Linked DNA regions of Homo sapiens. The gene in region 2 interacts genetically with the main gene of each other region. Each region holds a gene or a part of one and is shown on either strand. Other genes may lie near its edges.

Evidence for each region. Genes that interact genetically often act in the same process or in processes that back each other up.
Region 1: changes in MCM3 (region 2) and ATR are lethal when combined (synthetic lethality), as found in Homo sapiens cells (one large-scale study listed by BioGRID).

What each region holds. Positions count from the first base shown.
Region 1 is NC_000003.12:142,453,234-142,456,733, reverse strand, and holds part of ATR (serine/threonine-protein kinase ATR), read left to right. Parts: intron 1-3,500. UniProt on the Homo sapiens protein: Serine/threonine protein kinase which activates checkpoint signaling upon genotoxic stresses such as ionizing radiation (IR), ultraviolet light (UV), or DNA replication stalling, thereby acting as a DNA damage sensor.
Region 2 is NC_000006.12:52,267,743-52,271,242, forward strand, and holds part of MCM3 (DNA replication licensing factor MCM3), read right to left. Parts: intron 1,485-3,500; coding exon 1,344-1,484; intron 265-1,343; exon of another isoform or gene 227-264; coding exon 123-226; intron 1-122. UniProt on the Homo sapiens protein: Acts as a component of the MCM2-7 complex (MCM complex) which is the replicative helicase essential for 'once per cell cycle' DNA replication initiation and elongation in eukaryotic cells.

The sequences.
Region 1 (3,500 bases), on a different chromosome or scaffold from region 2:
TATCTCATTGTGGTTTTAATTTGCACTTCCCTAATGACCAGTGATGGTGAGCATCTTTTCATGTCTTTGTTGGCCATTTGTAGATCATCTTTGGACAAATGTCTATTGAAATCCTTTGCCCACTTTTAAATTGGGTTTTTTTATTCTTTTTTTTTTTCCTTTGAGACAGGGTTTCGCTCTGTCACCCAGTCTGGAGTGCAGTGGCGTGATCTTGGCTCACTGCAACATCTGCCTCCTGGGTTCAAACGATTCTCGTGCCTCAGCTTCCTAAGTAGCTGGGACAGCATGTGTGCATGAGCCACTATGTCTGGCTGATTCTTGCATTTTTAGTAGAGATTGGGTTTTACCACGTTGGCCAGGCTGGTCTTGAACTCCTGACCTCAAGTGATCCTCCCACCTTGGCCTCCCAAAGTGCTGGGATTATAGGCATGAGCCACCATGCCTGGCCTATTCTTGAGTTGCAAGAGTTTGTTTCTTTGTTTGAGACAGAGTCGCCCAGGCTGGAGTGCAGTAACGTGATCTCCACTCACTGCAACCTCCGCTTCGTGGGTTCAAGTGATTTCCCTGCCTCAGCCTCCCCAGCAGAGAAGGGGTTTTGCCATGTTGCCCAGACTGGTCTTGAACTCGTAAGCTCAAGCCATCCACCTTCCTCAGCCTCCCAAAGTGCTGGGATTACAGGCATGAGCCACCCCGCCCAGCCAAGTTGCAAGAGTTCTTTACACATTTTGGATACAAGACCTTTTAAGATATGATTTTCAAATATTTTCTTCCATCTGTGGGTTGTCTCTTCACTTTCTTTGATGATGGCCTTTGAAACATAAAAGTTTTAAATTTTGATGCAGTCTAATTTGTTTTTTTCTTCTGGTTATTTTTGGTGTTTCTGTTGTCATATCTAAGAAACTATTCCCTAATCCAAAGTCATGAAGATTTACACCTATGTGTTCTTCTAAGCATTTTTGACTTTTAGCTCTGCTATTTAAATCTTTTATCTGTCTTCAGTTATTTTGTAGATATGGTGTAAGGTAGGGGTCCATATTCATTTTTTTGCATGTGCATATCCATTAGTCACAGCACCATTTTTTGAAAAGAATATTTTGCCCCTCGTTTAATTATCTTGGCTTTTTTGTTGAAATGGTCAATTGATTTTCAGCAATATTCTGTTGATCTATATGCCTAACCTTATGCTAACAACACAGTGTTTTGATTGTTGTACCTTTGTAGTAAATTTTGAAATCATAAAGTGTGAGTGTTCCAACTTTGCTTTTTTTCCCCCAAGATCATTTAGCTATTATGGGTCCCTTGTATTTCCATATTAATTTTAAAATCAGCTTGGATTTTGATAGGAAGGACATTGAATTTGTAAATCAATTAGGGAGTATTGCTGTCTTAACAATTTGGGAGTATTGCTGTCTTAACCATGTTAAGTCTTCTGATCGATGAACATAGAATGTTTTTCCATTTATTTGAATTTTATTTTTTTCATCAATGTTTTGTGGTTTTTAGGGTCAAGTTTTATATTTAACTTTTAAAAATTGTATTCCTAAGTATTTTATTCCTTTTGATTTTATTCTAAATGGAATTTTTCTTAATTTCATTTTTGGATTGTTCATTGCTAGTGCATAGATATATAATTGATATTTATATATTGATATTGTATCTTACAATCTGCTGAATTCATGTATTAGTTCTAATAATTATTTTTGTGCCTTCCTTAAGATTTTCTCTCCACAATAACATGTCACCTGCAGATACAGTTTTTCTTCTTCCTTTTTAATATCAATGCCTTTTATTTCTTTTTCTTGCCTACTTGCCCTAACTAAATCAGTGTCGAATAGACATGCTAAAAGTGGACATCCTTGTCTTGTTCCTGATCTTAGGGGTAGAGCAGTCAGTCTTTGACTTTTAAGTATGATGTTAGCTGTGGGAAACAGATTGTTTGAAAGGACTTTTAAAGCTTATTTATTCACCTTCATTATTTAAAAGCTGTCTATCGGGCCGGGCGCGGTGGCTCACGCCTGTAATCCCAGCACTTTGGGAGGCCGAGGCGGGCGGATCACGAGGTCAGGAGATCAAGACCATCCTGGCTAACACGGTGAAACCCTGTCTCTACTAAAAATACAAAAAATTAGCCGGGCGAGGTGGCGGGCGCCTGTAGTCCCAGCTACTCGGGAGGCTGAGGCAGGAGAATGGCGTGAACCCCAGGGGGCGGAGCCTGCAGTGAGCCGAGATTGCGCCACTGCACTCCAGCCTGGGCGACAGCGAGACTCCGTCTCAAAAAAAAAAAAAAAAAAAAAAAGCTGTCTATCAGACATTATGGTAGAATACTGGTTAGTTGGACATATGCAAAAGCAAATTCTCTGAAATAGGAAGTATATCATCATGTGGAACAGTTACCAAGAGCCCCTGTGTTAGTCTGGGTCAGTCAAGAAATAATTTCTGGAGGAAGTAGTTGAGACCTTAAAAGTTAATAAAGTTGACCATGCAAGGGAGAAGAGAGTGTTCTGAGTGATAAAAATATCAAGGCAAGTGAAGTCATGGCCTGCCTGAGAAATACAGTATGTATTCCAGAGGGTATACTTCCAGGAGGTGGTGCTAAGAGATGACGCAGGACAGGTAAGCAGGGGCTAGATTATGAAGGTCTCACATGGGGCCTGTTACTACATTATAACTTTGCCTGCAGAGCAACCAGAAGTCATTGAGGATTTTAAGAAGGAATAAAAAGGGGGCAAGGGGTGGAAAGAGATAATCTGATTTGTACTGTAGAAAAAATAGGGTCCTAGTTTGGGCCAACAGCCAGAAAACTAGTTAGAGGTTTATTGCAGTAACCCAGGAAAGGATGATGGTGTACTGGATAGTGTCACGGCCGTAGAGACGGAGATAACTGAAGAGATTCCAAAGAGATTTAGGAGTTGTAATTGCATGTTAGAGGAAGACGGGGTGAGGATGATTCCTAGATTTTTGTCTAGGGCAAATGGGTGGATGATGATTTGGGGAATACAGGAGAAATAGTTGGGAAAAGGTAATTAATTTTATTTTGGAGATACTGAGTTTGAGGTGTTTGGAACATATCCAACTGGGTATTTCCCATAGGTAATTGGATTTGATGTTTAGGGTGCAGAAAAAAGGTCTGGGCTAGGTCTATATGGTAGCTATAGATGTTATATCGTTATTGAAGACATGGTAAGGGATAAAATTCCTTCATTCAAAATATAGTCATTTACCAGTTCACAGTATACACTTAGAGATGGCACATAGAACCCATCTTACTCTATTCTCCAAAACACCTCTGACTCCCCTCTATCTTGCCTTTTTTCCTGCCTTCCCTTCTCTTACCCTCCCCTCACACCAAAACAGAAATTTCACATAACTTAATGAAGACGTAGTAATGTGTATTATAAGAGTATTACCATTAGCTTCTCATCCTTCACTTAAATATTGATGTCAGCAAGATTTCTTCTTGCAAAGATAACATCATACCATAATATTTGTTTCAATTTTAG
Region 2 (3,500 bases):
CTCAAACTCCTGGACTCAAGTGACCCACCCGCCTCGGCCTCCCAAATTGCTAAGATTACAGGCGTGCACCCCCAACTTCTTGGCCACTAACTTTTTAATCTCATTTGCTTGCCCCACCTTACCTCTTCCTCTTCTGCTCCTGGTCCTCTTGGCTTTTCTCCTCTTCATCTTCTGTCTCTGATTCATCCTCACTTCGCTTCTTACGTTTCTTCTCCTTCTCCAGAACCTAAGACCAAGGCAAGTGTGGCTGGGCTAGAGGGGTCACTGATGCAGGGGAACTGCATCAAGAACTCCCAGTCCCTTCTGCATCATAAGCAGGAAAGACTTCCATGTTTCCAATGGTTTACCTAGCTCCTCTTGTCCCTAAGTCCCAGGACCAGGGGCAGAAGTAGAGACTGCTACCCATCTTTTCAAAATGCTGGGAAGTATGTTAAATGCTGTTTATATAGTAGGTACTCAATAAATGTTTACTGAATAAAGAAACAAATGTCTAGCCCATAATGGTTAAGTGAAAACAATCCATTTCCTTATAAATCAGGTGTCTAATTGAAATCCAAGACAACCCTTAACCTAGCAAAAAGCGAGGAAGAGTTTATCAGACTCACAACTCAACCCTTAACCTAGCAAAAAGCGAGGAAGAGTTTATCAGACTTACAACTCAACCCTTAACCTAGCAAAAAGTGAGGACGAGTTTATCAGACTCACAACTCAACCCTTAACCTAGCAAAAAGCAAGGAAGAGTTTATTAGACTCACAACTCAACCCCAAAAGGCTAACATTCACCAGACTGGGGTGGGAGTGGGCAACTAGGAAAAGGGAGTCTAGGCTTTGAGGCTTGATATCTAAAATGACAGAGGTGCAATGTCACAAACAGAAATAGGGAAACAGGATGAGTGGCAAGTTTGAGAGTTCAACTTTAAACATGAGCTTCTGAGGTGCCAATGGGACATTTGAAGAGACTACCAAGAGGAAAGGTAGAGTGGGACAAGGAAGATTACCAAGGTAGCTCTTTTGAAAACACCTACTTTTTTTTTTAAGATGCAAAGGAAGTAGGGGTAGACAGAGAAGCAGCTAACTGAAAGTACAGCACATCAACTAAACCAGAATCTCTAGGAGCCCTGGAATCAGCATTTTAAAGCTTTCCATCTGATTCTCTGGTGCAGTCAGGGTTGAGAATCACTGAGTGTTTCAGAGGAAAGAGTGAGGCAGACTGATGACTGGAAGACAAATACTGCTTTCTGTTGACAATCCAAATGTAGCCGTCAGCCACGGAAGGCTGGGAAGCCCATGCATCTGTAATATATCCAGGAGATCCTCTCATGCCCAGGCATCTGAATCCTCACCTTCTTAAAGTAAGCATACTGGACCAACTCCACAGCTTCCTCTGCATCCTGCAGGTCCACAGTCTTGCTCATGCGGGCCTTCGCATGGGCTGTGGCCAGTCGAATCAGAGTTTCCAGTGTTCGGGCTGTAACTGGAGATGTCTAGGGAAGAAAAGGGAGGATTGCTTATCCCAAGTCTTTTAGGCATGCCCATCAATCCTACTGCACAGAAAGGGAAATGACACTACCAGAAAAGCCCCAGGAGGCCCAAGCAAAGAATTCAGAGTTCTGTGTTCTCTACAGATACCATATAAAAATGAGAAAGATGATAGCAATGATCAAGGAAATATACACAAGAGTGTTGCAGGAAGGAGGAGCAAGTGAACAGGGAAGATTAGGCATCTAACAACTGGAAAGATAAAAAGCTACAGCGTAGAAAAGAGAAGGGAGAAAAATCATCAGTGATTGCAGGCCTGCAATGCAGCAGGAAGTTTGCCTTTATATACATTCTGTCATTTCACCCTCTTAATAACTTGGAGAAGTTTTATACATGAAGGAAATGGGACTCAAAGACCTTCAAGGAGATTTTCCAAAGTCACACTAAAGGAGGGATAGGAAAGAAGTAATCTGAGGACAAAAACGTAACTTCAGTAAACTCAGTCCGGAGAAGGAGAACTCTGACACATTCCTAACAAATGTTTCTCACAGGGGCCGATGAATACCAAACTGGGATGCCTTTATCTTTTAAAATGCTATTGTCTGAATGGCCTTTCTTGACCTAATCAATCAGAATGAATTGGAAATGAATGAATCAGAAATCTCAGTGTTTAGGACTAGATATGTGTACAAGTTTCAGGTGATTCTGATGTATCCAATCCTCTCATTTTATGGATAAGAAAGCTGACCTGACAGGTGAAAGGATTTGTCCACAGTCCAAAAGCTAGCTGCAGAGCTGGGATCAGACATGAAACTACTTCCAGCCCGGACGTGGTGGCTCACATCTGTAATCCTAGCACTTTGGGAGGCCAAGGCAGGCGGATCACAAGGTCAGGAGCTTGAGACCACCCTGACCAACATGGTGAAACCCCATCTCTATTAAAAATACAAAAGAAAAATTAGCCCGGTGTGGTGGCGCATGCCTGTAATCCCAGCTACTCAGGAGGCTGAGGCAGGAGAATAGCTTGAACCCGGGAGGCAGAGGTTGCAGTGAGCCAAGATCATGCCACTGCACTCCAGCCTGGGCAACAGAGCGAGATTCCATCTCAAAAAAAAAAAAAAAAAGAAAAAAAAAGAAACTACTTCCTTCTGTCACACCTCCCGGGTCTCCCATTATATGACCCCATCACTGACGTATCCTGGTCACTTCTTGTTTCAAGTTTCCTAAATTACCATGTATATCCACAATGACATTCAAAAATAAATACATTCACATTTAAATTCATTCATCAAATCTTGTAATAATTTAGAAAGCTACCGGAGTTTGGAAGTCATACACTCCATGACAAGTTCTAATTCTTAAACCACCTAAAAAGCTGGTGAAATCCTGGCCTGCACTAGCAGACCTAGAGAATCCAAATTCTCTTGGAATTCACTTACAGACCCCACACTAAGACAATTAAAATAGTGTATGACGCTCAGTTCTAGGTTCAATGAGAGGGCCTGGGACACACCAGAAGTTCGCATGTGGAAAGGAACAGTTAAAAAGAAAGTAAGCTGTTTAATGAGGAAGACAGGCGATACACAACCTCCAGAAAACAAGACTAACACCCACAGGTAAAAGTTGTGGGAAAATAGGTTTAAGCTTAATAAATATTCTAAAATTTCAAAACAGTGATGCTCTGCGCATGCTGTCACTGGGGGTATTAAGAAGTCCCGGCCGGGCTCATGCCTATAATCCCAGCACTTTGGAAGGCCGAGATGGGCGGATCACGAGGTCAGGAGATTGAGACCAGCCTGGTCAACACAGTGAAACCCCGTCTCTACTAAAAATACAAAATTAGCCGGGCATGGTGGCACGCACCTGTAGTCCCACCTACCCGGGAGGCGGAGGTTGCAGTGAGCCCAGACCATGCCACTGCACTCCAGCCTGGGTAACACAGCAAGACCGCATCTCAAAAAAAAAGTCCCAGCAGGGATTTGAAAAGACAGAGTGGGTGAGGCTTGAGTAGATGATCTGGG